Regions from separate parts of the Homo sapiens genome. Here regions 2 and 3 are each linked to region 1. The links come from fine-mapping of genetic effects on gene expression. A gene starts in region 1. Each other region holds a variant in brackets. All regions are shown on one strand. Distances are from middle to middle.

Region 1 (10,813 bases):
TAATTTATGGAACTATAAATAGAAAAACATGTTTGAAACACCACTGCACTGAAAAATCAATGAGCTGATATGTCCTACAGACACCTATTATAAACTCACCCTTGCTCTATGCTATGTGTGTCAGCTGGGCTATGGGATAAAGATGTTTCAGAGTAGGGAGGGGTGCAGGAAATGAAGACTGTGGTCACAGGAGCAGCCTACCAAGGCTAGGCTGGAGGCACAAGTTACCTGCGATGCGGCTCCCGTAGGCCACGCCCACGGCACAGAAGCTGTTGTTGGGCACAGCCGCGATCTCTCCTGCACATCGCGTGCCATGGTGGTTGCCATTCTCCACATCCGGGTGGGGCATGGGGTCAGGGTCATTAGAGTTGAGGTCATAGCTACCCTCAGGGCTCTGAAATATTTTGGAGGTGACATGTGGTCATTCACTGGTTAGAGGGGATCAGGTCCTGGGGTTCAGGGACAGAAAGGAAATGGGAGTTTGGGAATCGAAGCTAGGGCGATAAGCTCATTTCTCATCGTTTCTGTTTTTGAGATGGAGTCTCACTCTGTTGCCCAGGCTGGAGTGCAGTGCCACAATCTCAGCTCACTGCAACAACTGCCTCCCAGGTTCAAGCGATTCTTCTGCCTCAGCCTCCCGAGTGGCTGGGACTATAGGTGAGCGCCACCACACTTGGCTAATTTTTGTATTTTTAGTAGAGACGGGGTTTCACCATCTTGGCCAGGCTGGTCTCAAACTCCTGACCTCCTGATCCGCCCGCCTTGGCTTCCCAAAGTGCTGGGATTACAGGCGTGAGCCACCGCGCCCGGACCCAATAAGCCCATTTCTATCTGCAAACCACACTGGCTAAAAGATATGAGCAAAGGACACTGGGGCAAAACTGAGAAGTGCCACAGCTCCCAGCAAACTTCTCTTGCCCATTATGCGAATGTGCCTACAGCTCCACGGCTTGGGAAACCTGGAAAAAAGGCAGGTAGGGCTCCCTAGAGGCCACGCTTTAGAGAGAGGAAGGCACTCGGATTTCCAACAAGAGGGAAGTTGCCTGCAGGGGCCACTCCTTACTCCTCAGAAAAGGACTAGAACTGAGAGCAGGATTGTTCTTAGAGTTAGAGCCACCTGCTGTGCCTTGACTGGCTAGCTAGGGAAAAGAAGAGGATGAACCCCATCCCACCTCCCAGGCTCTTTTATTTGGCCCAAAGACCTCTAGAAAAGGGGACAAGACTGAGGCAACATCAAGAAGGAGGTAAGACGTGGGGAGTGAGGGGTGTCGTTCCAGGGCCACTCACATAGTTGGGTGCAATGTCCTGGATGGTGTGTTCCACTCCGTCATCCACTACCACCACCGTCACCCCTCGCCCAGTCACATTGCGTTCCCACACACCCGTCACGTTGATGTCCCTGCCCGGGCTCCGTCGGTTATTCTGTAAGAGAGACAGGATGGGAATACAGTGACACATAGCACAGCCCAGAGGGAGATGAAGTTATAGCTAGCAGCCCCTTTTCACCCTTGGCCTCCACCAAAGAGCCAGACAGATTGCAGACCAATAGGTCAGGTGGGAACAGAGTCAAGGAGGAGCAGGTGAGAGCTCTGCCACAGCCTTGGATTCTAGGAAAGTTTGTCATCAGTCATGGGGGATTCGGGATAAAATGGTAGCTAGGGTGAAGGGTTGGATGATACACTTCTTTTTTTTTTTTTTTTTTTGAGACGGAGTCTTGCTCTGTCACCCAGGCTGGAGTGTGGAGTGCAGTGGCAGGATCTCGGCTCACTGCAAGCTCCGCCTCCCGGATTCACGCCATTCTCCTGCCTCAGGCTTCCGAGTAGCTGCGACTACAGGCGCCTGCCACCACGCCTGGCTAATTTTTTGTATTTTTAGTAGAGACAGGGTTTCACTGTGTTAGCCAGGATGGTCTTGATCTCCTGACCTCGTGATCTGCCCATCTCGGCCTCCCAAAGTGCTGGGATTACAGGCGTGAGCCACCGCACCGGGCCAGATGATACACCTCTTATGCCAATGGTAGTATCGTATCACTTATGTCATAGTGTTTACCATGTGTCAGGCATGGTTCTAAGTGCTACACATGTATACATTCACTTACCCTAACCATAACTCTATGAGGTAGGCACTATTACAATCTCCACTTTACAGATGGAGAAGCTGAGGCACAGAGTTTAAGCAGCTTGCCCAAATGCACATGCTAGTAAGTGGCAGAGCTGGACCATGAGCCCAGGCAGCCTGGCTGCACCATCTGTGCCCTGAGCACTGTAGAACACCGGCCTCTAGAAGACAGTAGAAGGGAGGGAGAGCCTAGGGAAACACCACAGAACCGGGAAATGGTCCCTCAGGCAAAGGATGGAGGTGACTGAAGAGTGATATAGTCAAAAGCCCATTAAAGAACTGGACTGGAACCTACCCACCTGAAACTGCAAACTGCAGGACTGGACTCACCAGGTGCCATTGCTGCGGGTACTTGGGGTCGTTGAAGTGGACGCTGCGCTTGGCCCGCCTTAGCAGCCTCTGCTCTGAGTGCCAGCGCACAGCTTCATGCCCAGCCAACACAGCCTCCACCTGCTGCCGGATGGCCTCCACCTCCAGGGCCGGCCTGTGCCCAGCAGGCTGGACAAAGAGGTAGTGCCCCTGAAGCTCTCCGATGCGTCCAGCATTCACCAGCCCTGCTGCCTGGGCCAAGGCATCCGCCTGCTGCTCCAGAGTCTCTTCCTCCCCGTCACCTTCCAGGCTTTCCAGGTGCACAGCCCAGCTCGGCCCCCCTGTGCCCTGGCCATCAGGCCCACCTGTCCCTGCCAGGCCCATGACCCAGGGAACCAGTAAGAAGAGCCCGGCTAATTCCAGCCAGAGGCAGGTGGGCAGGCCCAGGGGGGCATCCAAGTGTGGCACTTTCTGCCTCCCCTTCGGCATCAGAGCAGTGGACTGCAGACAAAGAAAAAGGATATGGAAGAGATCAAAGAGCTGGTAACTGCAGGAATCTGAGAGGGAGATGCTGAGCCATCCATGTGTTCCCCCTGGAAGTCCCTAAGCCATGCCTTTTAAATTGTGAAACATTTGATCTTCTCTTTTTGTTCACATTTATCCCTGACCAACAGGGATAAGCCCCCAGGTGGAGTGTGGGCCAGCACTAACACCAGCGGATGGCCTCCCACAGCAAGACAGCCAATCCTCACGACACCAGCTAATCCAGCAGGAGGTCCAGTTGCTCACAGGCACTGCGAGCAACCCCTGTTGCCACCCACAGGGCTCAAAGCACACATCGCTTCCACAAACTACTGGCTGCATCGTGACTGTTCTTTAGCAGAGACAACCCCTTCACCCCTACATTTAGAGGGGACATAAATCTTTCCCTAGCTGACTCCTCAGTCCAGTTGTCCTCAAGGCTAATTCCCCATAACAGGGCCCCGTGCCCACCTGGATTCTACATGAGGTTGAGCTCCTGGTCTGGCTAACCACGTCACACTCATGTTGTGCAAATGGAGAAAAGGCATCACTTTCACTGTGAGTAGTGTTGACTCAGCAAAGGCTACAGACCTGTGGGATCCAAGAACAGAAGAAATAATGTCCCACCAATCCCAGGGCAACAAGCTGAGGTTAGATAAACTCCAGGACCAGGGACCAAAGAAACTTCATTAATTGTCATTTCCAAAGATCTAAAATCGGTCATAGACTGGAGCAGAACTGGTACGGTGAGGCCAAATCAGTATAACACCCAAAAAACCCACTTCCTGTGCTATCGTGCCACCCTCTTTTCATTTTGTTCCCCAGAGGCCTAGCAAAAAACAGTTACCAAAATGCCTCTTGAAAGAGTAGGTAATAACGTCCTAGAAGTCCAGGTGGTAGCTAACTTCTTGATTTGTATATCCCAGAAGGATACCAGGGAAAGTGAAAGGAGGGAGGCGGCGGGGGCGAAACGGGGAAAGCCAGAGAGTGCAAACAAAACAGAACAGGCACCAAGGACAAGCGGGCAACCAGGAGAGAACGAATGATGAGAGAACCTCACTAAGCAGCTACTCCTGTACTGAGCTCAGGAGGCTGGCTTCAAGGTGAGGACTCAGACTCCAGACTGGGACTCCAATTGCCTGGGTTTGACAGAACCAGGGAATTGGTCTCAGGAGCCCTCAAAAAAAAAAAAAAAGAGCCAAGTTAGAACTGGGGGACAGACAAATGGGGTGGCAGGACATGTGTGTACCTATGGTGGCTGGGCTCCTTTAAAAGCCTTTGCTCTCCACTGGGTCCACCCTGGGGCAGGGCTTAGTACTCAGATACACACCCAAGCGGCTCTACCTCAAAGCATTCCAGAAAAATGGGAATTTTACTGAAAGGCTTCCTGGAAAGGAGAACTTATGCCACCTCTCCTTTACCTCTAAAAATCTTCATACTACATTTCTTCCTCTCGTTTTCTCTTAGGTTTCCAGGCATATTCCCTCTCAATCCCTCCCTGCCCCCGGGAGCCTCAATTCTCCCAAGATATTTAGGTGTCTTCCCCAGTCTGCATACTCTACTAAGTAAACAAACTAACAAACAAAACCCTTGTTAGCCAGACAGTGGCCCCGCTAGGCAGACTCCTTCAGACTCAGTAGATCCCACCACAGATGTCAGGAAGAAAGAGAAGCAGGAGCTCCTTCTGTCTACTAGTGGCAAAGCAGCATTTTTATCCCCCAGGCTTCTGGGAAAGGAACCTTAAATGCCTTCTGAAAGCAGGTCTCAACCTCTCCCAACGGCTAGGCCTCCCTTTACAGCTCTTAATTGACAAGGAAGAAGAGAATGGGCAGCCTGGAGTCCAAGATCCTGCTCCCAAGCTACTGTCCTCGCTGTTCCACACCCGGCTCCTAGAAGCCAGCTTGGGTACCGGGTCAGTTTCCCGATTCTCCCTCCGTCGGCCTCGATCGCTCCGTGCAATGTGCCCCTCTCCTCATTAGCACCCACATTATCCAGGAATTCTGGGCCCTGGGGCCCCATCTCCTTGGTCCCCCACGCCAGGACCTCAGGCACCCTCTGTGCAGCTCCCTCATCCTCAGACGCCGGCTTCCCCCACTTCTGGGGCCCCCTGACCACCCAGGTCCAGCCCCACACCTAGTTCCCAACTCACCGGCCCCGCCGCAGCTGCCGCCGCCTCCCTGCGGAAACTCGCGGCTTCCCGGGAGCCGGAGGAGCAGTGACAGCAGCATCACTTCCGCCCGCGGCGCAGCCAATCAGCGCGGCGCCTGCGGCCCGGCGACCCCCGCGGGCCACAGCAACCGGCGCCCGGGGTCCGGCTCCCGCGGGCGGCCTACGCAGGCAGGGGCCGTGCGGGCGCTGGGGGCTGAACCCGCGGGCTCCGCCTCCCCGAGTCCTCGGGGCATCTTCCACATGGTCCCTCTTCAGAAGGCTCTCCTTCATGGCGTCCTCTGTAAAGGGCATTTCGGTTCCGACCTTTAAAAGCCACTCGTTGCTCTTCTCCTTCTGACCGCCATGGCCCCGACTGTCCCTGTAATCTTCCCAGAGGGGATCCTGCCCACCCAGGTCGCCTTCCTTCTCGCAGTCGGCTCTCCCTTCTTCCCCGCGCCCCGGGAGAGTCCACTTGTATCTCAGGGGTCTCCCGCAGCATCCCCGTGCCCCGGCGGCGCCAGCTGTCGCCGCCAGAGGGCGCCGTCGGGGGCGGCGCGGCGCCACCGCGGCCTCTCCTCTCGCGGCCGGAGCCTCGCCCCCTCCGCTCGTGCCGCCGGAAGTGGGAGGTGCCGCGCGCGGGCCGGCGCTCGACCCCTCCCCCCGTGGCTCGGCCGCCCCCTCCCCCCGCTCCGCCCGCTCAGGTGCGTCCCGTCCCTCCCCCACTTTCCTCCCGGGGGCGCGGCGCGGGAGGTGTGTGCGGGGCGAGCGTGGGTGGGGGTTGCGGGGCGAGGGCCGGGCATGGGGGTCGGGTGGGGGGCGTGGAGGGTGCTGTGAGAACCGAGGCGGGGGTCCCGGCCTAGAAGTGGGACGGGGGGGTGGCTGGCAGCGGGGTGGGGGGACCGAGGGGAAGGGGTGGAGGGGGGTCTGGTCCGAGCCAGCGGCCAGCCTAGCAGTCCCCTGTGGGGGGTGGCCAAGGCCACCCAGCGCCGCTTCCCCCCATTGTCCCCTTCCCGTCTGTCCCCTGTTCTCGCCCGAGGACCCGTGGCTCCGGCGCCCCTGCTTCGCTGGTGGTCGCCCCGGGTTGCGGAGTTCTTTTTGGTACACTCGACCCTCCAGCCAGCTGTTCCTACCCGCGCCACGGGCTCTCTAGCCACGGAGTTGCATGCATGGCCCTTGTCCTGGGGTTTCGTTCACCGGGCGCAGAGGACCCCCCAGCCCTGGGCTATGTTGGAGACGGGATGTTTGCACCTGAGGGAGCAGCAATGGCGGTTTGGGCCCATTTTCTCCCAGGAGCTTTGTATAATGAGGGAAACTGAGGCACAGAGGGTCTGTGGGCTGTGACTGAGGTGTTGACACAGCCCCATCTACCTATCTGCCCTATGCGCTCTTCAGTGTTCCGGGGGGGAATACGTGTGATGCTGTTAAAATAAAAGCAAGAATGCAAACTAACCCGATGTTCATCCCCACCTCCCAAGTATTTTGATTTTCTTTTCTCCTCATAAGGTCATAAGTTTGCTCTGCGGCATAAAAGATGACCTTTTGATTTTTAAAAAAGGCGTCCGTCCCAGTTCCCTTACTTGTGTTACCATGTTTTTTACCTTGACTTTTTCACGCTAGAGAACCCAGGATTCTTTTTTGCACCACTAGTCACTCTGAAGAGTCTGTTCTTTGCTCAGTTAGTGGGTATCAGGCCTTTCCCATCTGTGGGGAGCACGCTGACAGTAAAATATGCACCCTGGATTGCCCAGTATTGCATTACTTGTTGACTTACAGGCAGACACCTCCAAAAACTTCCCTTAAATTAATGGAGAATGCTTTGAATGTAACAGCCATAAAGTGATTTAAAAACATGAGATCTGATTGATACTAGGCCGAAAAGTACGTCTTTTATTAAAAATGATAGCAGACAAGGTAGGCCTGGGACCACTTGGAAGATCCTGGCAGACTAAGATGTATTGTTTGAAATGACTACATTTCTGCCAAAAGTGAAAATAAGATCTTTGCACAGACTCCTAGATATTTATGTAAATACAGTGACTCCTGAGGATTGCTGCCCACTAGGACACTAGGACTTTGCATACAATGTCTCTTTTAGTACTCTTAAGTATTTTCTCCCGGAGCCCAGGTTTTTGTGTTTCTTTACTGCGACAGCTCTGTTGTGTGGACATTCTGAGGGGGGAGAGATACATTTGTTTTAAACTTTGGAAACTTGTAGCCTGTAATTTGTTTCTGAATGTACAGAGCATAATGGCAGCGTCTGAGGTTGCTGGTGTTGTGGCCAATGCCCCCAGTCCTCCGGAATCTTCTAGTTTATGTGCTTCCAAATCAGACGAAGGTCTCCCAGATGGTCTAAGGTAATGTGTGGACTCCTGACTGGGAAGATTCATTTGGGTAAAGGGTTTTTGAGATGGTCTTGTGTAGCTGGTCTTTCTTTTTGGCTCTGATGGCACTGCACTAGCTTTTTAAAGGTACAGGACTGTCTGATCTATCTTTGTATTTCTGGTATCCAACACAGCACCTGATACTCAGCAGGCATGCTAAATGTTTGGGGAATAAATAGAATAGAATACATGGGGTCAAACTCATTAAAAAATGCAAACATTTTCCAGCCCTTTCCTACGTGGACTGTATGTTCATTTAACCATATGTTTATATGTTATATATGAGAAATGTTATATCAGTATGTGTACATGGATATCTAAATATGTATACATACAGATACACAATTACCCAAACTTATATCTCATAGTAGCTAATATGATACATTGTTATGTACAGTGTTGAACTAAATTAGCTATATAGTCATCCCACAGTATATGCTGGAGATTGGTTCCAGGACCCCTACTGAGGATACCAAAATCTATAAATGCTCAAGTCCCTTACATAAAATGGTGTAGTATTTTATCTGGGATAGGCATATGCCCACCCTACTTAAAGCTATTAAAAAGATAAAAAATAAATAAAGTGGTGTAGTATTTGCATATAACCTATGCATGTCCTCCCATATACTTTAAACAATAGGTTATTTACAACAACTAATACAATGTAAATGTTATGTAAATAGTTGTGTTGTTTAAGGAATAATGACAGGTAAAAAAGTTTGTACATGTTCAGTACAGATGCAACCATCCAATTTTTTTCTGAAAATTTTTTTAATGGTTTCAAATCTATTTCACTTTTCTTTTTTTGAGATGGAGTCTCACTCTGTTGGCCCAGGCTGGAGTGCAGTGGCGCGATCTCGGCTCACTGCAAGCTCTGCCTCCCGGGTTTATGCCGTTCTCCTGCCTCAGCCTCCCCAGTAGCTGGGACTACAGGCGCCCGCCACTACGCCCGGCTAATTTTTTGTATTTTTAGTAGAAACGGGGTTTCACTGTGTTAGCCAGGATGGTCTCGATCTCCTGACCTCGTGATCCGCCTGCCTCGGCCTCCCAAAGTGCTGGGATTACAGGCGTGAGTCACCACGCCCAGCCTTTTTTTTTTTTTTTTTTTTTGAGATGGAGTCTCGCTCTGTCGCCCAGACTGGAGTGCAATGGCGTGAACCCAGCTCACTGCAACCTCCGTCTCCTGGGTTCAAACGTCTCCTGGATTCCCTTACCTCAGCCTCCCAAGTAGCTAGGATTACAGCCGCCCAGCACCACGCCTGGCTAATTTTTGTATTTGAGTAGAAACGGGGTTTTGCCACGTTGGCCAGACTGGGTATTTTACTTTTCAGTGATTTATTTTTATATTTTAAAAAATGGACACGATAATTGTACGTATTCATGGGGGTACATAGTGATGTTGTGGTGTATGTGATGTATAGTGATCAGATCAGGGTAATTAGCATGTCCATCATCACAAACGTTTATCCTTTTGAATATTTTCAGTCCATGGTTGGTTGAGTCCATGAATGTGGACCACATTCTACATAAAGAGGCTGACTGTGTATTCTTCCTCAACTCTGTTTTTTTTTTGAGAGAGACTCTTGCCCTGTCCCCCAGACTGGAGTGCAGTGGTGCGATCTTGGCTCACTGCGACCTCTGCCTCCCGGGTTCAAGTGATTCTCCTGCCTCAGCCTCCCTAGTAGCTGGGATTATAGGCACCTGCTTGGTAGCCCGGCTAATTTTTGTATTTTTAGTGGAGACCGGGTTTCACCATGTTGACCAGACTGGTCTTGAACTCCTGACCTCAAGTGATCTGTCCGTCTTGGCCTCCCAAAGTGCTGGAATTACAGGGATGAGCCACTGCACCTAGCTCCGTCAATTTTTTTGTTTTTTTTTTGTTCTTGAGATGGCATCTTGCTCCGTCACCCAGGCTGGAGTGCAGTGGCGCGATTTCCGCTCACTGCAACCTCTGCCTCCCGAGTTCAAGCGATTCTCCTGCCTAAGCCTCCTGAGTAGCTGGGACAACAGGCGCCCGCCACCACACCCGGCTAATTTTTTGTATTTTAGTAGAGGCAGAGTTTCACCATGTTGTCCAGGATGGTCTCGATCTTCCGACCTTGTGATCCGCCCGCCTCAGCCTCCCAAAGTGTTGGGATTACAGGCATGAGCCACCGCACCTGGCCGTCCCTCAACTCTTTTCCAGTGTACCTGGGTCCCCTAATACAGTAGCTAACACTTAACTACAGTTCCATACGTGGTAACACATTTAATCTTCACAACAGTCCCAGGAGGTAGTGATAATATTATTCGCATTTACCGGTGAGGAAACTGAGACACAGAGAGGTTAGTAATTTGCCCAAGGTTTCCAAGCTATGTTGGAGTCAGAGTTTTGATAAATAAAATCAACTTCATACACTAGTAATAATGGCAGCTAAGGTTTATTGAATGTTTACTATGTGCCAGGCACTGTACTGAGTACTTTATGTGCATTATCTCATGTAATCCTCACAACAGTCTTGTTAGGTGGATAGTATTATTTCTGTTTTACAAATGAGGTAACTTGCCGAGAGTCAAACAGCTTGTAAATGGTGGGCGGAGTCAGGATTCAAACTCAGGTACTGTATATGCCTGAATTTTTAATTAAGCACCCGCTCACAGTTAACTCCCAGCAGGAAGGAATCAGCTTCGAGTGTTTTTATTAATATTATTGAGACAGGGTCTCCATCTGTCATCCAGGCTGGAGTACAGTGGTGCGATCATGGCCTACTGCAGCCTCCACCTCCTGGGCTTAAGCAGTCCTCTCACTTCAGCCTCCCAAGTAACTGAAGCTACAGGTGCACGCCACTACACTTGGCTAATTTTTAAATTTTTATGTAGAGAGAGGGTCTTGCTATGTTTCCCAGGCTAGTCTTGAACTCCTGACCTCAAATGATCCTCCTGCCTTGACCTCCCAAAGTGTTGGGATTACAGGCATGAGCCATTGCTCCCCAGCGAGATATTCTTTCAGTTGTTTTATTTTGAACTAGTACGACTGAGGAAACAAAGACGCATCAACTTGAATCCCCATTGCTAGTTGGGTATGGTTAAGAGTGTCAGTTATAGAATTAGTTTAAAAAAAGAGGGTGGGGTCAAAGAAATTAAACATAGGCGTAATTCCTGGGTGAAAGATGTGCAATTGTGAATGTTGGATGTCATTGTAAATATGTTTTAAAGTCCCCTTTAAAAAGCAGTACCTCACTTCAGCCTGGGTGACAAAGTGAAACCCTGTCTCAAAAAATAAATAAATAAATAAAAAATAAAAGCAATACCTTGAATGGCTGTGACAAGTGACAGAATATCCTAATGTTAAGCAT
Region 2 (9,338 bases), 170 kb before region 1:
ATTACCTCCATCTTTATAATGAACAGTATTGTACAGGAAATAACATAATAGATTTGTTGTTTTCTCTCTTTTTAAAGGTCACTCTGCTGAAGTGTAGAATCAGCTGCAATGGAGGAAGGTGACACGAACCAAAGGAAAATGTGGAAAGATTTAGAAAGAACTGTCATTCTGGTGAAGGAGAAATGAAATCAACTCCAAACAAGTGAGAAAACTACTAAAGAGAATAATAAGCACAGATGAGGCTAAAACCCATGGATTAGCAAAAGAACAAATTAATATGATGAAATCATTTCTTCAGGCCCTAGAGCGGGAACACAGAAAAAGGGCAGTACTGTTAATCCACAGCTGGAGATCTGCATGGCATGTGGGAAAGAAGAACAAAGATGCAGGAGAACTGCGGATACTGATGACTCATTGAAAGTGACCAATTATGGCATCCATATGGGATAAAGTGATGCCAGGAAGAATGTCACAAATTGGGAGACAATGGAGATTTAAGGGGCTGGCGGCCTCAGTGAAATGAGAAAATAAACTCAGCAAATGGAAGAACTGAAAAGACAGGAAATTGTGTTCAAAGAGAAAAATTTACAGATTTGTAATTCCAGAAGTGGACGTTTGGCCACAGAAATAAATTGCTACAGAGAAGTGGAAGAACAGATAGCTGGGAGAAGAAAGACCAAGTCAGATGAGATTAAGATGCTGGACAAGTAATCAACATGGACATTAAAGGCATACAAAATCACAGAGTAAGAGAAAATGATTTAGAAGGAATAGGAATTAAAGTCTCAGTTACAGTCTTAATATCACACTATAAAGAATGTGTTTTTAATTATATGGAATAAAACAGGATGTCTTGCTAAAAACAAAGCTTAATCTATTTGTTTAGCCAAATAATTTTCAAGGACTTCCCTGAATAGCCATTCCTGACAAAAGCTCTTAGAGAGACAAAGAAAGAAGCTTTCTTAACTTGATGATTATTTGTCACAACCAGACAGCAAGCAACATATTTAATGGTAAAAAACTAAAGGCATAAACAAGCCACAGGCTAGAAGAAAATCTTTGCAAAATACCTATCTGGTGAAGCACTGGTATCCAAAATATACAAAGAACTCTTAAAACTCAACAATAAGAAAACAAACATCCCAATTTTAAAATGGGCAAAAGATATGATCAGATACCTCACCGATATATACAGATGGCAAATAGTGTATGAAAAGATGCTAAACATCATATGTTACTAGGCTACTGCAAATTAAAACAACAACGAGACACCACATACCTATTAGAATGGCTAAAATTCAAAGCAGTGACAACATCAAATGCTGGTAAGGATATAGAACAACAGGAACTCTCATTTACTGCTGGTGGGAAAGCAAAATAGTACAGCCACTTTGTAAGACAGTTTGGCAGTTTCTAGAAAACTAAACATTCTCTTACTATATGATCACGCAGTTCTGTCTTTGGTATTTAGCCAAATGAGCTGAAAACATATATCCACACAAAACCTGCAGACAGATGTTTATAGCAGCTTTATTCATAGTTGAAAAAAGTTGAAAGCAACCAACAAGTTCCTTAATAGGTGAATGGGTAAATAAACAGTGGAAATCCAGACAATGGAATATTAGTGCTAAAAACAATGAGCTATCAAACCATGAAAAAACTTGGAGGAAACCTAAATGCACTTTACTAAGTGAAAAAAAGTCAATCTGAAAAGGCTACATGCAATAATGCCATTCTGGTAACATCAAAACTATGGAGACAGTAAAAAGATCAGTGATTGGCCAGGCGAGGTGGCTCATGCCTGTAATCCCAGCACTTTGAGAGGCCGAGGCAGGCGGATCACCTGAGATCAGGAGTTCGAGACCAACCTGGCCAACATGGTGAAACCCCATCTCTACTAAAAATATAAAAATTAGCCAGGCGTGGTGGCGCATGCCTGTAATCCCAGCTACTCGGGAGGCTGAGGGAGGAGAATCGCTTGAACCCGAGAGGCAGAGTTTGCAGTGAGCCGAGAGCATGCCATTGCACTCCAGCCTGGATGACAAGAGCAAAACTCCATCTCAAAAAAAAAAAAAAAAATCAGTGATTGCCAGGGACTGAGGAGAGGAAGGGATGAATAGGTACAGCACAGGGAATTCTTAGGGTAGTGAAATTATTCTGTATGATACTGTAATAATGGATATGCAACATTACAAATTTGTGAAAACTCTTACAAATGTGCAACACAAACTATGGATTCTAATGTAAACTATGAATTTTAGTTAATGTACCAATATTGCTCATCAATTGTAGCAAATGTACCACACTAATGCAAGATGTTAATATCAGGGAAAATCGTGAGGACAGGCAGAGATAATGGGATATGTGGGATTTCTCCGTACTTTCTGCTCAACTTTTCTGTAAACTCTAAACTTCTCAACATAAAGCCTGGCCAGATGCTGTGGCTCACACCTGTAATATCAGAACTTTTGGAGGCTGAGGTGAAGGGATCGCTTGAGGCCAGGAGTTTGAGACCAGGCAGGGCTAACACAGTAAGACCTCGTCTCTATCAAAAATTAAAAATTAGTTGGGCATGGTGGCACACACCGGTAGTCCCAGCTACTCAGGAGGCTGAGGCAGGAAGATGGCTTGAGCCCAGAAGTTCAGGGCTGTGGTAAGCTGCGATCATACCACTGCACTCCTGGGCAACAGAGCAAGACCCCATCTCAAAAAATAGATAAAATAAAGCCTATTCATTAAAAAAAAAATTTTAAGGTATTACCATTTGAGTCACACAAGAGAAGATAATGTCTGTTGTGTGTGTGTGTGAGCGAACACGCATGTGGTAAAGCAATATATTCGAGAGGTTCAGAGTGCAAACTCTGCTTGGGCTCAGTCTGGCTCTTCCACTTAATGGTTGCGTCACTTTGGGTAAGTTATAAACTTCTCTAAGTGTCAGTTTCTTCACTGGCAAATTGGGGATAATAATCATCATGGAGTTTTAAAGATTAAACGAGTTCACAGATGTAAAAGCACTGACCAGAACAAATTAAGTACTCAATAAATCTTAGTTCCCTGTAACTCAACATAAGGTCTATGAACCCATAAGTCAACATTACCTGGGAGCTTGTCAAAATGCAGACTCTCAGGCCACTCCAGCCCTACTGAGTCTTCATTTTAATAAGATCCTCAGGTAATTGCTGTGCATATTTAAGTTGAAAAGCACTGTATTCGCTGGTATGATTATTATCAATCATAAGCTATTCTTTGAAAATGTCAATAAATAAGCAGAAATATTAGAAGAGTCCAAATTATTATTTGCTGATGATACGTTACAAAAAAAGAGAATCAATTATAATAGTTAATGAAATTTTGAAACATATTCTAAAGATACAGTAATTAAAACAAAGTATAGGCACATAAATAAATAAAGAGTGTATGTTAATATGACCGTTTCAAATAAGTGAGTAAATGATAAACTGATAGGGCAATTGGGTATAGATTTTTTTTTTTTAAATAAAAAAGTCAAGCCAGGCACAGTGGTTCACGCCTGTAATCCCAGCACTTTGGGAGGCGTAGGTAGGCAGATCATTTGAGGTCAGGAGTTCAAGACCAGCCTGGCCAACATGGTGAAACCCCATCTCTACTAAAAATACAAAAATTAGCCAGGCGTGAACTCCACTGTGCCCGGCCTGCTAATGTTATATTTTCAGTAGGAAATAGGCTAATATTTCAGCAGGCTAATATTTTCAGTAGGAATTACAAGCTTTCTGATTTTCCCTCGAAAATTACTTAACCCTTTGGAAATATATTCTCACGTTATCCAAATTTTCCTAAGAATTCTTAAAGTAAAAATATGTCAAATTTTGTCCTCCCCAAATGGGCCACAACGTGCATTTCCATTGGCCCTCTGATCAAACCTAGTTCCAGTTTAGTTTCAACAATGAACCATCTAAGCCAGGCAAGAAATTTAACAACATAACACCAAATATCGGCCCAAAATGGAACCCATAGGTCCAAAATATGCCTAATAGTAACAGACAGCAATTGTTTAAAAGTAATTGCAAAGAAATACAGTAAGTCCAAATTCACTTTAGTTTCAATTCTGAATCATTTCTCAATCTCTAAACTG[G/GA]AAAAAAAAAATTTAGCCATTTGTCACCTCTGACTAAATACAGGCTAAATGCAGGCTTCAGTCCCCAAATCACTAAGTGTGGAAAAAGTGCATGCCTTCAAGAAAAGTGCCAACGGGAGGATTTTCCCAGAAAGAGTGGTTCACATACACAGTAGGAAAATCTTGTATAGGTAACTTGGCTACCAATTTAATTCCCTCAACCAATTTGGAAACTAATGGAAGTAAATGACTAAGAACTAAAATACATCAGACAGCATGGAAAAAAACATACGTATTAAAAGCACACAATGTGATTTAAGTTTGTTTTTAATTGCCTTTTGCTGAAGTTGGAATATTAAATTCTTTTGCTGCAGATAAATCAGAAATCAGCTTTACTGGTTTCCTATAATGTTGCACTTAGAAATGTTCAGCTGCTATAATGAATTACATGACTACTTAAAGGGGTTTCTTACTCCTTGTACAATATTTAAAAGAATGTATTACATGTATATCTGCCTTATACTAACTAATCTTCATATCATTGGGTCTAAATTATTAAAGTGATATAAACTACCAGTTATTGGAATTAAACACCCTCCCCTTTCTCTAAAACTGTTAGCTTCAATGAGTACCCACGTCTCAGAAGCTATGACCATAACTACACTGAAACCATAAATTAGTGAGATTGGAATTCCCCCACAAAGGAGGGGGAAGATTCAATACCTTTTCTCATAGCTGTAGCAGGCAATACTCTCTTGGTTTCTCAGAACCACTAAGTACGGCAGTCTCCTCTGCCCAATGTAAAGTCAGCTGCCAGGCTATCTGTAACCAAACCGTAGAACCTAGTTTCCCTTTCTGAAAAGGTAAATAATCCTTCTGGCCTGATTTACCAATAAAGATGTGAGTAAAAAGAAATTATCAAGGAGAGCATACCCAGGCTTTAACTTCTTAATGAAGTTTCTTTTTTTTTTTTTTTTTTAGATGGAATCTCACCCTGTTGCCCAGGCTGGAGTGTAATGGCATGATCTCGGCTCACTGCAACCTCTGTCTCCCGGGCCTCAGCCTCCCAAGTAGCTGGAATTACAGGCATCCACCACTACGCCTGGCTAATTTTTTGTATTTTTAGTAGAGACGGGGTTTCACCTTGGCCAGGCTGTTCTCGAACTCCTGATCTCAAGTGATTCGCCCCACTTCAGCTTCCCAAAGCTAGGATTACAGGCATGAGCCACCACGCCTGGCCTGAAGTTTCTTAAGATTCCCCATCTTATAAGAAAAAGACAAACCTTGTTGGTAATGTTAATACCAATAAGTACAAATTGCACGCTCCATATCTCATATTCAGTCAGAAAAAAAAAATTAGCCTTCAGGGACACTGATAACTTTATTATATGTTAATGAATACAGTATCAAAAACATCTGGAAAAAGTACCCCTGTTAAAGAGCACAGCATTAAGAATTCACAGAGGCTGCTCAGGATAAAGCCAGGTCAAAACTAAGGTCAACATCCTTCAGGGTTTTCAATGTCAGGGTCATTCATGTACTGAGACTTAAACTTGATCCTGAGTATAATTTGTCAGTAACTGCCAAGAATTTAAAAAAGGAAAAACAATAATTTAGAGTGCCTGTATTATCTAATTTATAGTAGACTTCATTAACACCAGAGAAACATCACAATTCCTATACCCCTACAACTTTTTAATTATCTCTTCAAGACATCTTAAATGAAAACAGCATATTACTTATTGCCTCTCACTCTTAACTCCTTTTTCTTTATTCTTTGAGATTGCTGACTCAAAGCCATCTTGGGCAATAAAGACTGGTTCAGCATTCTTCCAACTCATCTAAAAAACATTTTACATTTAGTGGCAGTTCAGTCTTTAACCACAGATCACATTTCTTTTCTACTGATAAGCACTGTCACAAATCAGAATTAACAATACAATTTTAGCATATTATCTTATCAGACTTCATAATTCTCCACTGCTGCCTAGATCTTGATTTTTCAACTCTTATACCTACAACGGCTGCTTTTTAAAAAGGCATCTTAAAACAGGTCTTTCATTTAAGTTCTTTCTACAGCAAAGGCAGGGTAATTAGTAGCTAAATGGCTTACAAATTGAGCTCTCTTCAAACACTAAAAATATTACCTAAACTAATATATCTGAACTGCACTTGACTTTTAATTGCTAAAATTCTCGTGTTAGATAAAACTCAGGAATTGATCCCATAGAAAGTAACTTTGTCGGCCAGGCGGTGGCTCACGCCTGTAATCCCAGCACTTTGGGAAGCCGAGGTGGGCAGATCACGAGGTCAGGAGTTCAAAACCAGCCCGGTCAGCATGGTGAAACCCCATCTCCACTAAAAATACAAAAAATTAGCTGGGCAAGGTGGCACACGCCTGTAGTCCCAGCTACTCGGGAGGCTGAGGCAGAAGAACTGCTTGAACCCAGCAGGCAGAGGTTGCAGCGAGCTGAGATTGCACCACTGCACTCCAGCCTGGGTGACACAGGGAGACTCCATCTCAAAAATAATAATAATAATAATAATAACAATAATAATAATAATAATTTCGTCTCTAGTGATTCTTACCCAACATAAAATGAGACGTAGCTTGGTTTCTTCCCTTGTTCTGATAAACCCCAAACTACTTTATTATTTTAAAAAATGAAAGAACAAGTGAAGACTGGATATTAAATTTTAATTATAAACTATTTTAAACAGTAAAATTAAAAGTCCATTAGTCTATTAGAATAATCACAGTAAATACATCATGTTAATAAAAGAAATGAATTTTTCATTTTTTTTACAGCAAATCAGACAACTCAATAACTTTTGAAAACAATCCATGAAAACGAATGTTAAACCTGGCACTGTATTTCATTTGAGGGCATGGAAACTTTACAGTGACTTAAGACAAAATATTCTATACAGCGGAGTTGATCAAAATAAATGCTTTTTAAACACAAATTTAGTATCTTCAATATCTTCAAATTTAAAAATAACTTTCATAAATTGATTTTTTTTTTTTTTTGACACAGAGTCTCACACTGTTGGAGTGTAGTGGCACGATCTCAGCTCACTGCAACCACTACCTCCAGGATTCAAGCAATTCATCTGCCTCAGCCACCCTAGTAGCTGGTATTACAGGCATGCACCACCACACCTGGCTAATTTTTGTATTTTCAGTAGAGACAGGGCTTCACTCTGTTGGCCAGGCTGGTCTCGAACTCCTGGCCCCAAGTGATCTGCCCACCTCAGTCTCCCAAAGTGCTGCACAATTACAGGTGTGAGCCGCCAAACCTGGCCCATAAATTGATTTTAATGAAGTTTATTCCCTGAGCCAATATTTCTTTATTTATTTTTACTCCTATCAATCTAAAATTCCTGGTGTCTTATGCCAAGGAATCCGGTCTTCACTAGAATACTTTATTTTTCTTTTCTTTTCTTCTTTTTTTTTTTTTTGAGATGGAGTTTTGCTCTGTCACCCAGGCTGGAGTGCAGTGGTGTGACCTCAGCTCACTGCAACCTCCGCCTCCGGATTCAAGTGATTCTCCTGCCTCAGCCTCCTGAGTAGCTGGGATTACAGGCACACGCCACCATGTCTGGCTAATTTTTGTATTTTCATAGAGATGAGGTTTCACCATGTTGGTCAGGCTGGTCTCAAACTCCTGACCTTAAGTGATCCACCCAACTCGGCCTCCCAAAGTACTGGGATTACAGGCGTGAGCCACCGCACCTGGCCTCTAAAAACTCTTGCTCTTCAAAAGACACTGCTGAAAGAATGAAAAAATAAGCCATGGAATCGGAAAAAAAAAAAATCTTTGCAAAGCGTAAAGCATTTATATAACACAGGACTTGTATCCAGGATATATAAAGAATTCTCAATATTCAACTATAAAGAAACAATCCTTTTTTTTTTTTTTTTGGAAAGACAGGGTCTTGCTCTGTCACTCAAGTTGGAGTGCAATGGCACCATCACAGCTCACTGCAGCCTTAAACAGCTAGGCTCAAGTGATCCCCCCACCTTAAACTCCTGAATAGCTGGGACTAAAGGCACATGCCAAGCACCCAGCTAATTCTTAAGTTTTTTGTAGAGACAGAGTGTCGCTTGTTGCCCAGGGTGGTCTCGAACTCCTGGCTTCAAGTGGTCCTCCCACTTTGGCCTCCCAAAGTGCTGGGATTACAGGCATGCATGAGCCACTGTGCCCGGTCAGCCCATTTCTTTTAATGAGCAAAAGATCTGAACAAATGCTTCACCAAAGAAGATACACAGCATGAAAATAAGTACATAAAAAGATACTCAATATCATTAGTCATTAGGGAAATGTAAATTAAAACCACAAGATACCATGACACAACTATTGGAACAACTAAAATTTAAGATATATCATTTTAGCAATGGTAAGGATTTAAAGCAACTAGAACTCTCCTATCTCATATATTGCTAAAGAGAATATAAAATGGTACGGCAACTTTGGAAGACAATTTGGCAGTTTCTTTAAAAGTTAAACATAAACCTACCAACCATATGACCCAGCCATTCCACTGTAAGGTATTTACCTAAGAGAAATGAAAACATACATCTACGCAAAGCTGTACATGAAGTTCATAACAGCCTTATTCATAAAAGCAAGAAAACCAGACACAATCCAAATGTTCATCAATAGGTGAATGAATAAACAAATCTTGTTACATCCATACAATGTAACACTACTCAGATTACCACTCAGCAATAAAAAACAACAAACTCTGATACAAACAACAATAAATGAATCTTAAAGAATGCTGATGAAAGAAGAGTACATCCTAGATGAGGCCATTTATATGAAATTCCAGAAAAAGCAAAACTAACCTATGGTGACAGCAAATCAGTGGTTTTCTGGAAGTGGAGGAGGATGAGAATGAATGCAAACAGTGCTACTGTAACTTTCTGCGAGACTGAATTGTTCTGTATCTTGATTGTATGGTTATTAAATGGGTGTGTATATTTGTCAAAATTCAAATTGTAAACTTAAAATGGTTCAATCTTATTGAATGTAAATTATGCCTCAATAAAGTTGATTAAAAATATCAAAATGTGGCCAGGCACGGTGGCTCATGCCTGTAATCCCAGCACTTTGAGAGGCCAAGGCGGGAGGATCACTTGAGGTCAGGAGTTCGAAACCAGCCAGGCCAACATGGTGAAACCCCATCTCTACTAAAAATACAAAAATTAGCTGGGCATGGTGACAGGCACCTGTAGTCCAAG
Region 3 (10,813 bases), 26 kb before region 1:
ATTTCTGGGGATTCTCCACTTTTCGACCCTGACCCAGGAGGAGGAAGGGGAAGGATGGTGGTGCTGGGTGGGAGTGGGGATGGTGTGTGCTTCATCCCCCTCTGACCGAAATCCTAATCTTGTCTCTAGATCTGGGGGCTGCAGCGTTGTGTACCTGTCACCCTTAGCCTTGCTGCTTTGACCTGTATTGTCTGTTCTGACCCTCCTGAGACTGGAAGCTGGGGGTAGGGGACACACTCTCCTTCCATCCTGTTCCTCAGGAGCCCAGCAGGGGTGCAGAAGGGGAAGGCAGACATGAGGGCAGGTGGAGTGGGGGTAGAAGCAGGGCCAGAGACAGAAGGTGGATGCCTGTCTGGGATGGTGGTGCAAAGGCTGAGACAGAGGCTGGGGTGGATGGAAGCCAGGATGCAGGGCTACCAAAATCACCTGGTCCCAGCTGACTTGGGGGTTTGGACCACAGTTCTTTGTGCAGGAGTCCTTGGGTGGTTGGGGAGCGGGGGTGGGACACACAGGGTGAAGGGAGGGATTGGCTGTTTGTAGCTGAACAGCAGAACAGAGCACTCTGCCTTTGGGGTCTCTGGCATCACTGGCAGGGAGAGGGGTGGCTGGGCCAGGAGCCCACCTCATCCCCAGTGCTCAGAGAACTGGGTCCTCAGAAGTGGTCCTGCCCCCACTTTACACATAAGGAAACAGACGCAAGGAGGAGAGGGATGCCCAATGACGGGCACTTCGATGAGTCCGTGTGAACTCTGTTCCGTGTGAGCTGCTGCGCGCTCAGGGAATGATTGTGAGAAGCGGGTGGAGGCTGGAGTGGGCAGCAAAGAACTGACATTTTGAGGTCAGTTTTTCACTCCTTGGTCAAGGGCAGGCTCTCTCCCTGGTCATTACCAGGAGCCTGGCTCCGGGCAGCAAAGAACTGACATTTCGAGGAGCTCTGCTAAGGGCCAGGCAGTATGTGAGGGAGTTCACAGACACCGTCCCATTTTCACAGCCCTCTGAGGTTGGTAACATAACCCCCACTTCACAGATGAGGAACTCCAGCCCAGAAAGCCTGTCAGCCCTGAGAAAGGAAGGGCAGGGCATCGGGCTGGGCAGCTGGCCTGGGACCAGTGGGGTGTGATAGTGTTGGCTCTGCTTCCCGCGGGTGGGGTGCCAGTGGGGAGGGGTCTCACCAGAGAGGGAGCCGGGGGAGTGCGCTCCTGCGTCCATCCTCAGACCAGCGTGTCCCTCCCAACCTCTGACCCCTCTGAGGCCAGGGGATGGGTTCGGCTTCCTTTGGTACCTCTTTTGGAAGTCTCTTCAGACAAACACTGGAGAGAAGGCACAGCACCCTAGGGTGACATCAGTGGACAGGTCAGTTTCCTGTTCCTGTTCCCAGCCACCCCTGTCTGTCTGCCCAGGGACCTACCTGCCTGGCCCACTCCTGCTGCCACCCCTCTCCATGAGTGGGACTCCTGAGCAGTGCCAGGCCCAGGCCCTCAGGGTGGCAGTTGCTGGATGGGGCCAGGCTTCCCATTCCCTGGCAGGCAGACTCTTGGCTCTGGAAGATCCCTGGGGGACTCTGACTTCTTGGTTACTCAGGCTACTCCGTAAGGGTAGCCTTACGAGAGCGTAAGGGCATGAGGGGAAGTCGATGGGTAGACCAGGTGTCTCTGATTTCTCTGAGGAAATGCAGCTTCTTTGCCAAGAACTCTTGGGCTTTGGTGGCTTCGTCGCCCTTGCCTGGGGTGGGCGAGTTTTAGTCTCTTCAGCTGCAGACCAGAAGCTGAGCTGACCTGAAAAGAGCTGGAGTTCTGGAGTTCGGGCTTCCAGGCCAGGGCCTGCTTCTGGGTGAGAGTGGGAGGTAATGGTTGCTTGAGGCAGAGGCAGTAAACCCTCACACCCGCAGCTGGACAAAGGCACCAGCTGGCTGTATTCTGTGGGGGCAATGTGGCTTCTGGAAGGTCTCTCCAGTGGCTCTGTAGCTGGTCTTGGCAAAGAATGTTCTAGACCAAGGGTTGTCAAACTACAGCTCATGGGCCAAATCCAGCCTGCTGTCTGCTTTTGTAAGTAAAGTTTTATTGGAACAAAGCCATGTTCATTTGTTACATATTGTCTATGGCTGCTTTCACACTGCAACAGCAGAGACCATGTGTCCTGCAAAGCCTAAAATATGTTCTGTCTTATCCTTTACAAAAACAGTTTACTGACCCCTGCTCTAGACCTCCAAAGACCTGGTATCCTCTTTCCTGGTGTTCAAGTTCAGAGAGGTGTCTGGAGTAGGGGCTGAGCCTGGCCTGGATGGGCAGTGCTGTGACAAGTGTCTAGGATGGCCGGGTATCCTGCACAGAGCTAGAAGGCTGCCTGGCACGGGTGAAAGCAGAGCTGCTCCCTGACCCTCTGCCCCTCCCTCCTCCACCCTGGCCTGCTTTAGCTTTCCCCAGACATGGCCAACAAGGGTCCTTCCTATGGCATGAGCCGCGAAGTGCAGTCCAAAATCGAGAAGAAGTATGACGAGGAGCTGGAGGAGCGGCTGGTGGAGTGGATCATAGTGCAGTGTGGCCCTGATGTGGGCCGCCCAGACCGTGGGCGCTTGGGCTTCCAGGTCTGGCTGAAGAATGGCGTGGTGAGTGGCACCCTGGGCTAGGGCGCTGGGGGGCTGGGGTGTGCCACCCTGTGAGTCCTGGGCCAATCCCTGAGCTGACTGCTAAGCTGCGTCCTATGCCCTATGCCTGGTAGATTCTGAGCAAGCTGGTGAACAGCCTGTACCCTGATGGCTCCAAGCCGGTGAAGGTGCCCGAGAACCCACCCTCCATGGTCTTCAAGCAGATGGAGCAGGTGGCTCAGTTCCTGAAGGCGGCTGAGGACTATGGGGTCATCAAGACTGACATGTTCCAGACTGTTGACCTCTTTGAAGGTAGAGAGGAAGAGGCTGGGGGAGGAGGTGGGCAGGAGGACAGGGTGCTGGGACAGGGAGAGGGAATGACCAGAATATGCCACAACTAGGGGTGTGCTTGCCCGCACACAGCAGGGATGGGATATGCCGAGAATAACACGCCACGCTCACAGGGCCCACTGAGAGGCCTCCCTTGAATTGGGGACAACTCTTGGCCCTGGTTTGGCCATTTTTTTGTGAGAGACGGGGGCAGGCCCTGGCTTGGAGTCTTGTTTATACGTTCTTGATGTTCATCTCCTCTCTCCTGTCTTCTCACAGGCAAAGACATGGCAGCAGTGCAGAGGACCCTGATGGCTTTGGGCAGCTTGGCAGTGACCAAGAATGATGGGCACTACCGTGGAGATCCCAACTGGTTTATGAAGTATGTGGCCCCCAGGGAGCTTGGGTCTCCGCATGGGGTGGGAGGTGGCTTGTTCTAAGGAGCTTGCGGGAAGGATTAGGGGAAGCAGATAGCCAAGAAAGGATAAAGTGAGGGTCTGGGATGGGGAATAATGGGTCCTTAATACTCCTTGACCCCTCCCTTTCCACCCTCCTGCGCTCAGTCTCCCTAGCCTATGAGGCAAGCTAGATTAGGGAAAAAAAGTG[C/A]AACAGGAAGGCAATGGGATTGGGCTAGGACGTAACAGAGGGATCAGAAAACGGGTGGAAAACACACAGTTCTACCAAGTCTTTATCCTGGTTCCTCCTCTTCTAGGAAAGCGCAGGAGCATAAGAGGGAATTCACAGAGAGCCAGCTGCAGGAGGGAAAGCATGTCATTGGCCTTCAGATGGGCAGCAACAGAGGGGCCTCCCAGGCCGGCATGACAGGCTACGGACGACCTCGGCAGATCATCAGTTAGAGCGGAGAGGGCTAGCCCTGAGCCCGGCCCTCCCCCAGCTCCTTGGCTGCAGCCATCCCGCTTAGCCTGCCTCACCCACACCCGTGTGGTACCTTCAGCCCTGGCCAAGCTTTGAGGCTCTGTCACTGAGCAATGGTAACTGCACCTGGGCAGCTCCTCCCTGTGCCCCCAGCCTCAGCCCAACTTCTTACCCGAAAGCATCACTGCCTTGGCCCCTCCCTCCCGGCTGCCCCCATCACCTCTACTGTCTCCTCCCTGGGCTAAGCAGGGGAGAAGCGGGCTGGGGGTAGCCTGGATGTGGGCCAAGTCCACTGTCCTCCTTGGCGGCAAAAGCCCATTGAAGAAGAACCAGCCCAGCCTGCCCCCTATCTTGTCCTGGAATATTTTTGGGGTTGGAACTCAAAAAAAAAAAAAAAAAATCAATCTTTTCTCAGGCCTGGCTGGCAGAGTTTGATTTGCCCTGGTCACTTTTGTTATGGTTTCAGATCTGCGCAGGGGACAGGCAGGCATCTCGGGCTTGTATGTGTTCCTGGCTGCCGTCCTCTGAAGGACCCTTCATGTGCCAAGATTCCAGGACAGTCAGATTCTTTCAGAGGAAACAGGCCATAGAACAGGAGAGTGAATCTTGGGGACCGAAGGGAAAAAGGAGCCACTCAGCAGCATGCAGTGGCTTTGGGGAGACAGAGGAAAGGAGAGATTGCGAGTGGCAGAATTGTTTGGAAGGTTTTTATTTTGGAAAAGCTGTGCAGAAAAAAATTCAAGAAAATGTTGCTGTGAAAAGAGAAAAACAAATCTTAAGCATTAAAAAAAATTCAACCAACTAGCTCAGAAGAGGGGAGAAGGCCAAGGTTGAGAGAAGAGTCACAGCCTGTCAGGCAGATAGCTGGCCTCCGGCGGGAAGGCCATTTCCCTGAGCACTTGCAGAGGAAGACAGGGTGGTGGCAGGACTGGAGTGGCAGTGGCTCCCAAGGCTCTCTCCTCCAACATGTGCATCTGCCATCTGCTCTGCAGTCCTGCCGCAGGATTCCCTAGTGAAGCAGCTCAGGCCTGGGGGAGCCGTGTGTATCCCAGCTGTGCCGGCAGCATCATACCAATCGTGGGGGTGGTGAAGGAGCCAGGGGTTCATTCATGGTTGGTTTCTGATCAGGCATCTTGGGAATGGATAATGGAGGCAGCCGCTTTCAGGACAGGCATGTCCAGGGGCTCCTCCCAGCCTCTACCCCGAAGTCCTCTTCCCAAGTGACCCCAGTGATGTTTCCATTGAGATGCGCTCCTGGCTATGGCAGGCACCTTCTCAACTTATATGTGGGAAGGGGTCCCCCATGCTTGGGGGACCTAGGCAGCTGGCTTGGCCCAAGAGAGATGAGGATGGAGGCCAAACCAAAGGGGGGCGCCAATCCCCTGTCCAACACCTTCTCACCAAAAGCTCCCGTTTGGCTGGAGGCAGACCCTGTGGCTCTGACCAGACTTCTCTGGCAGCAATCCTCCACCATTTGTATCTTAAGAAGGCCCTCACCCTCTTTGAGTGGAGTCAGAGGATGCCTCAGATTCCAGATGTAAGCATCAGAACTGCTTTCTGTCAAGAGCTCCCTAATTTTGGGAAAGAAGAGCCTGTCCCACACTGTCAGGCCCTGAGGTCAGCAGATCTGCTCCTCCTTCCCGTGCGGTACGTCTAGGTGCTGATGAGGGCAGTCCAGGGCGCTCTTGTTCTGGGACAGGCTCCAGTCCCCTTGCTCCAGCAGGTCTGGGGCAAGGAGGTCAGAGGTGGTGGGAGGGCCCCTGCTCTCTGTTTCCACTTCGTCTGGATCCTTGCTGCTGCAAAGTGGCACTGATTCTAGCTCTGTCCCTTCCTCCTTGGCTTTCCGGCTCCGATGGGGCCAGTGGCAGGGTCCACTCCTACAAACTTGATTGGAAGCCACATTCCTCTGGCTCAAATATACTTCCAGCATGTAGTAAACAGTCCAGAAGACGGTGAAACAGCCTACCAGCACCAGGGTCTGGGGCCGAGGCAAGCACCTACGTGAGGCACTGTTTCCCGAAGCCTACAGCCTTTCTCAGCCCAGGACAATGAGCTCAGAAAGTCTTTTTCCTTCTAGGGACTGCCTTTTTCACCCAAACTGTTCCCTCTGCCCCCTCCCCCGACAAGGCCTGTCCTGTAAGAGTTAGGCTAGCAGGGTAGGAGCAATGCTATGAAACCACTGCTGGGACCCAGGTCTTCCCAGTCCTTCACCCCGCAGGTCACCCTGAGAAACACACTAAGAACTCCATCCCCCAGACAGGACAGTCCCATCTACCCGCAGCTTGAGTCTTGGCCCTAGTACCTTGAGGGTGTTGGGGGTGATGGTGTAACCATCTTCCTCAGGAATTTTCAGCCCCGGTGGGCAGGGCAGGGCGAAGTCATCGTGCAGGTATTTTCCACTCATGGCACTCTCTAACAGCCTGTGGAGAAGAAAAGAGGTGAGGATGCCCCACTGACTATGGTTCCTATACCATCTGCCCTCACCCATTTTCCTGCCTTACAGGTGAAGACAGGGAAGCCCCACAGCAAAAAGGAGAGGCCCAGACTGTGAGTTCCCAGCCCGGGGCTCCATCTACCGGCTTGACGCTGGAACTGGGAAGCACAGCTGGGGTTCAGAGGGCGATGGGCTCCCTAGGCGGCCCTTCCCCTGTGACTGGCCTTCCCTCTGACACATGCGGCTTTACCCACCTTTGTCTGTCCCTGATGTCTACTGCACTCCACACAGAGCCATATAGGGTCAGCTGCCATTGCCGGAGGATGCCGACCTGGAATGACTCATCCCCTAGGGCAGCAAGGGGCAGCTCGTGAGCCACGCCCCTCTGTCAGCCATGCCAGACAGCAGAGGCCCTGCCCGCCCTGCCACCCAAAGGGGCTCAGGCCACATGGTCTGCTCCAGGAGCTGCCTCACTGTGTCCCACTGACCCCAGGTTCTGCAGAAGGGCCTCACTGGGTGCCCTTAGGGATGGAAAGGGTTGAAAGGCTGTACTCCAAAGCAGAGTCTTGCTTTTCTCTCCCGTATTTTGGGGGTTCAGCTGGGATTAGAAAAAAATGTCTTTCCACCAAATTAAAGAAAGCTTTGAAAACCACTGGCCTAGAGAATACCTAACTGACTGGAGGATGGGAGGGTGGAGCTCAATTTCCAGTCTATAGGCTGATACTAAAGATATTCACAATTCATGGATATTGTGGCCTTCACTGATATGGTGACCTTCCACAAGTCACCTCAAACCTCTGGGCCAGTTTAAAAAAAATGGTGAAATGAGTCCTGCCCTTACCTGCCTACCGGGGCTGGCCGAAGGATGGTTATACGTAAAAGGACTTGAAATGTGGTTTCGACAAGGACTTTTTGTTGCTATCCTGAGGAAAGATGGATGGGTCACTCCTCCAGGGAATATGAGAGGTAGTATAAATGAACAGTTGCAGAGAGCAATGCCCATTTCACGGATGGGCACACTCTTGGCATCAACTCTCTTGGTCCAATGGCAACCCTATATATTGCACACGGGACACTTTCTGTGGGGACTCTGAGATGCAGAGGGACCAGATAACAAGCAGGAAAGGTAGGGCCTGGTGTGAGGGCACGAGACTCACCGACATCCCTGATGACAAGCCTGTAGGTCCCTCGGGCTCTCTCCCCCCAGCATCGCACAGTGGAGAAGGTCCAGTCATTGAAGCCGTTGGGATCCCTGAGGAAAGAACACAGCAGAAACAGGTGGAAGGCGTGGGCCAGAGAGCTGACCTTCCCCCAGCAACACTTTCTTACTGTAGTAGCCGTGGAAACAACCTGGGAGGGTGCCACGAGGGCTTCTCAGGTGCCCCTTTCCCCTGGGGTCTCATGGAAGGAGGAAATTGTGTTAACGTGGTGTGGTGGAAAAAGCAAGCATGGAGCGCGCACAGGCTTGGAGTCCCACGGATCTAGGTTTATTCTTGTTCTCTTGGGCACTTACTAGCTCCATGACTTGTTTTCTTTTTCTTTCTTTTTTTTTTTGGAGACAGGGTCTCACTCTGTTATCCAAGCTGGAGTGCAGTGGCATGATCACAGCTCACTGCAGCCTTGACTTCCTGGGTTCAAGTGATCCTCCCACCTCAGTCTCCTGAGTAGCTGGGACTACAGGCATGTACCACCATGCTCAGCTAATCTTTAAATTTTTTGTAGAGACAGGGTCTCACTTTGTTGCCCAGGCTGGTCTTGAACTCCTGAGTTCAAGTGATTCTCCTGCCTTGACCTCCCAAAGTGCTGGGATTACAGGTGTGAGCCACCACACCCAGCCAGTTTCCTCATTTGTAAAAGGAGGTTACAAAGTCTAATCTAGGGGGTTCTTAGAAGGATTAGAGAACATGTATGTGAGGTGCAGGGCCTAGCGCTTGAAGAAGGTATGTGACGAAAGGCTTCCAGCCGCCAGGGATAGCCAGTGCCACAGTAGTTTAGGACAGTGCCAGGATCCACTTCTTCCATTTCTTTTCCCTGGAAAGGCCCTTGCTGAAAAGGTTGCTCAGGCCTCGGGCGGGTGTACATACGAGTCCATGCTGCGGGGGGCGCCGATGAGGGACATCATGCCACTGGGGCAGAACAGCTTCAGCTCCAAGCTGCCGCGCCGTGGGTGAGTGATGGAGACTGTCACTGCCACATGCTCCAGGGTCTTCAGCCCTGACATCTCCAGGTCCATCCTGCTGACTGTAGAAAGTCAGGCTGGGCAGCTGGGAAACCAGCCCACAAACACGCCTTCACTTCACCCCCACGTACACAAAGACACACGCTCACTGAAGCCACATACAAACATCTACGGCAACCCTAACTGGGACCTCGCCTATACTAGTAAATGGAATGGAGCTGCTGCTCTCAAGTTTACAACGTAGCTTCGAGTGCAGTTGGGAAGACGACACATACCCAAGACACAATATAAGAATCCAGCAGAGCAACTTCAATCATTCATTCATCCAAAACATTATTTACTGGGTACCTCCTCCATTTCAGGCACTGTACTAGATGCTGGGAATATAAAGATAAGATGGGCGTGGTCCCTGCCTCCTACCTGCAAGTGGAAAATGATATGGTATGGGAAATATACATAATTGATAAGGGAAGAGAAATAAGTCAGATGGGTTTAGGCACACAGCAGTGAGACACACTGAAGGAAATGAATACAGATCGGTAGACAGGGTTGGTAGAGGGCATTCTAGGCAGTGGAAAAGGCATGAACAAAGACGAAATGCACACATCTCACTGAAGATGATGCACAGTTAATTTTTAAAAAATGCTGGTGGATAAATTTCAAGCAAATTATGTGAGTGAAAAAAGCAATCTCAAAAGAAGCATATAGCCAGGTGTGGTGGTGTGCACCTGTGGTCCCACTACCGGGGAGGGTGAGGTGGGAGGATCGCTTGAGCCTGGGAGGTGGAGATTGCAGTGAGCCATGCTCATGCTACCACACTCCAGCCTGGGCAACAGAACAAGACCCTGTCTCAAAGAAAAAAAAAAAAAGAAAAAGGATGCGTAGCACACAATTCCATTTAGGTGATGTTAATTGAAGTACCTGCAGTGATACATAACAGATAAATGGGTGCCAGGGGCCAGGGACAGGGGAGGGGATGGGTGTGGCCAGAAAGGGGTAACACAAAGGAGTCTTGTGATAATGGAATTGTTCTGGATCTTGGTTGTGGTGGTAGTTATGCAAGGCTACATGTGATACAATTGCATACAGCTACACACGCGCATACACAAATATTGACAGCATGTGTATCTGGTGAACTCCAAATAAGCTCTATGGATTGTACCAATGTCAATTTCTTGGTTTTGATATTATACTTTAATTGTGTGAAACATTAAGATTGGGAGAAGGGTGCACGGGACTTCTCTTGTACATTTCTTTGAAACCTCCTGTAAATCTACAATTATTAAAACAAAAACAAAAACAAAAAACTACTGAAGAGGAAGACTCAACTGGGGACTATTAAGAAATTAGGCTGTAATGAGAACGATTCTTTTTTTTTTTTTTTTTGAGACAGAGTCTCTCTCTGTTGCCAGGCTGGAGTGCAGTGGCATGATCTTGGCTCACTGCAACCTCTGCCTTCTGGGTTCAAGCGATTCTCCTGCCTCAGCTTCCCAAGTAGCTAGGACTACAGGTGCACGCCACCATGGCCACCTAATTTTTGTATTTTTAGTAGAGATGGGGTTTCACCATGTTGGCCAGGATGGTCTCAATCTCTTGACCTTATGATCCACCCGCCTCAGCCTCCGAAAGTGCTGGGATTACAGGCGTGAGCCACTGCACCCGGCCGAATACAATTCTTTTTAAAGCACCCTTTCTTCCATTAATTTATTCCAGGCCAGGCATGGTGGCTCACTCCAGGCATGGTGGAGGATAACTTCAGCCTGGGAGACATCATCTTTACAAAAAAATAAAAAATTAGCTGGATATAGTGGTAAGCACCTGTGGTCCCAGCTACTCAGGAGGTTGAGGGTGGGAGGATGGCTTGAGCCCAGGAGGTTGAGGCTGCAGTGAACCATGACTGTGCCTCTGCACTCTAGCCTGGGCAATAGAGTGAGAGCCTGTCTCAAAAAAAAAAATTATTCCAATATGCAAGGCAGAGTACAATACCTTGATTTTACAGACACAGTAGCTCAGAGAGGCACTGAAAGTAGGGGCTGGGTAACCTAGGGTGGGATGCGCTTTAAAGATTTTTGTTTTAAATAAGCAACTAAGAGCTATTATAGATGACTGAGCAAGGACAGGGGTGTTTGTTTGTTTGAGACGGAGTCTAGCTCTGTCACCCAGGCTGGAGTGCAGCGGCTAGATGCTTGGCTCACTGCCACCTCTACCTCCTGGGTTCAAGCAATTCTCCTGCCTCAGCCTCCCAAGTAGCTGGGATTACAGGCGCATGCCACCACGCCCAGCTAATTTTTGTAGTTTTAGTAGAGACGGGGTTTCACCGTGTTGGCCAGGCTGGTCTCGAACTCCTGACCTCAGGTGATCCACCTGCCTGCCTTGGCCTCCCAAAGTGCTGGGATTACAGGCACGAGCC

The links. PIP is the estimated chance that this variant, and not a neighbour inherited with it, causes the effect.
Region 2: its variant is fine-mapped to the expression of PCSK7 in whole blood (TOPMed, PIP above 0.99).
Region 3: its variant is fine-mapped to the expression of PCSK7 in whole blood (TOPMed, PIP above 0.99).

Annotation. Positions count from the first base shown.
Region 1 is chr11:117,226,929-117,237,741 of GRCh38, forward strand. PCSK7 (proprotein convertase subtilisin/kexin type 7) reads right to left here and starts at 5,145. Exons shown (of 17, transcript NM_004716.4): 1 at 5,099-5,145; 2 at 3,421-3,540; 3 at 2,449-2,928; 4 at 1,288-1,422; 5 at 229-394. The coding sequence starts at 2,916. RNF214 (ring finger protein 214) reads left to right here and starts at 5,743. Exons shown (of 15, transcript NM_207343.4): 1 at 5,743-5,798; 2 at 7,339-7,451. The coding sequence starts at 7,345. RefSeq lists enhancers at 3,834-4,073, 4,943-4,992, 8,867-9,368 and silencers at 5,183-5,332, 5,543-5,882.
Region 2 is chr11:117,058,536-117,067,873 of GRCh38, forward strand. The region is part of intron 1 of SIK3 (SIK family kinase 3); the gene reads right to left. Among named protein-coding and RNA genes, the nearest start is that of SIK3, 35 kb to the right of the region's middle. RefSeq lists enhancers at 4,704-4,813, 4,994-5,093 and a silencer at 5,875-6,075. The variant G/GA (reference allele first, on the strand shown) is at 4,112.
Region 3 is chr11:117,200,589-117,211,401 of GRCh38, forward strand. It overlaps TAGLN (transgelin), which reads left to right. Exons shown (of 5, transcript NM_003186.5): 2 at 2,414-2,605; 3 at 2,719-2,896; 4 at 3,194-3,296; 5 at 3,627-6,876. The coding sequence starts at 2,426. The coding sequence ends at 3,771. It overlaps PCSK7 (proprotein convertase subtilisin/kexin type 7), which reads right to left. Exons shown (of 17, transcript NM_004716.4): 13 at 8,309-8,465; 14 at 7,382-7,476; 15 at 6,479-6,572; 16 at 6,093-6,210; 17 at 3,749-5,768. The coding sequence ends at 5,409. It overlaps LOC100652768 (a long non-coding RNA gene), which reads right to left and starts at 1,326. Exons shown (of 8, transcript NR_045215.1): 1 at 1,173-1,326. RefSeq lists enhancers at 1,327-1,990, 5,169-5,799, 5,800-6,430, 6,431-7,061, 7,902-8,402 and 1 more. The variant C/A (reference allele first, on the strand shown) is at 3,521.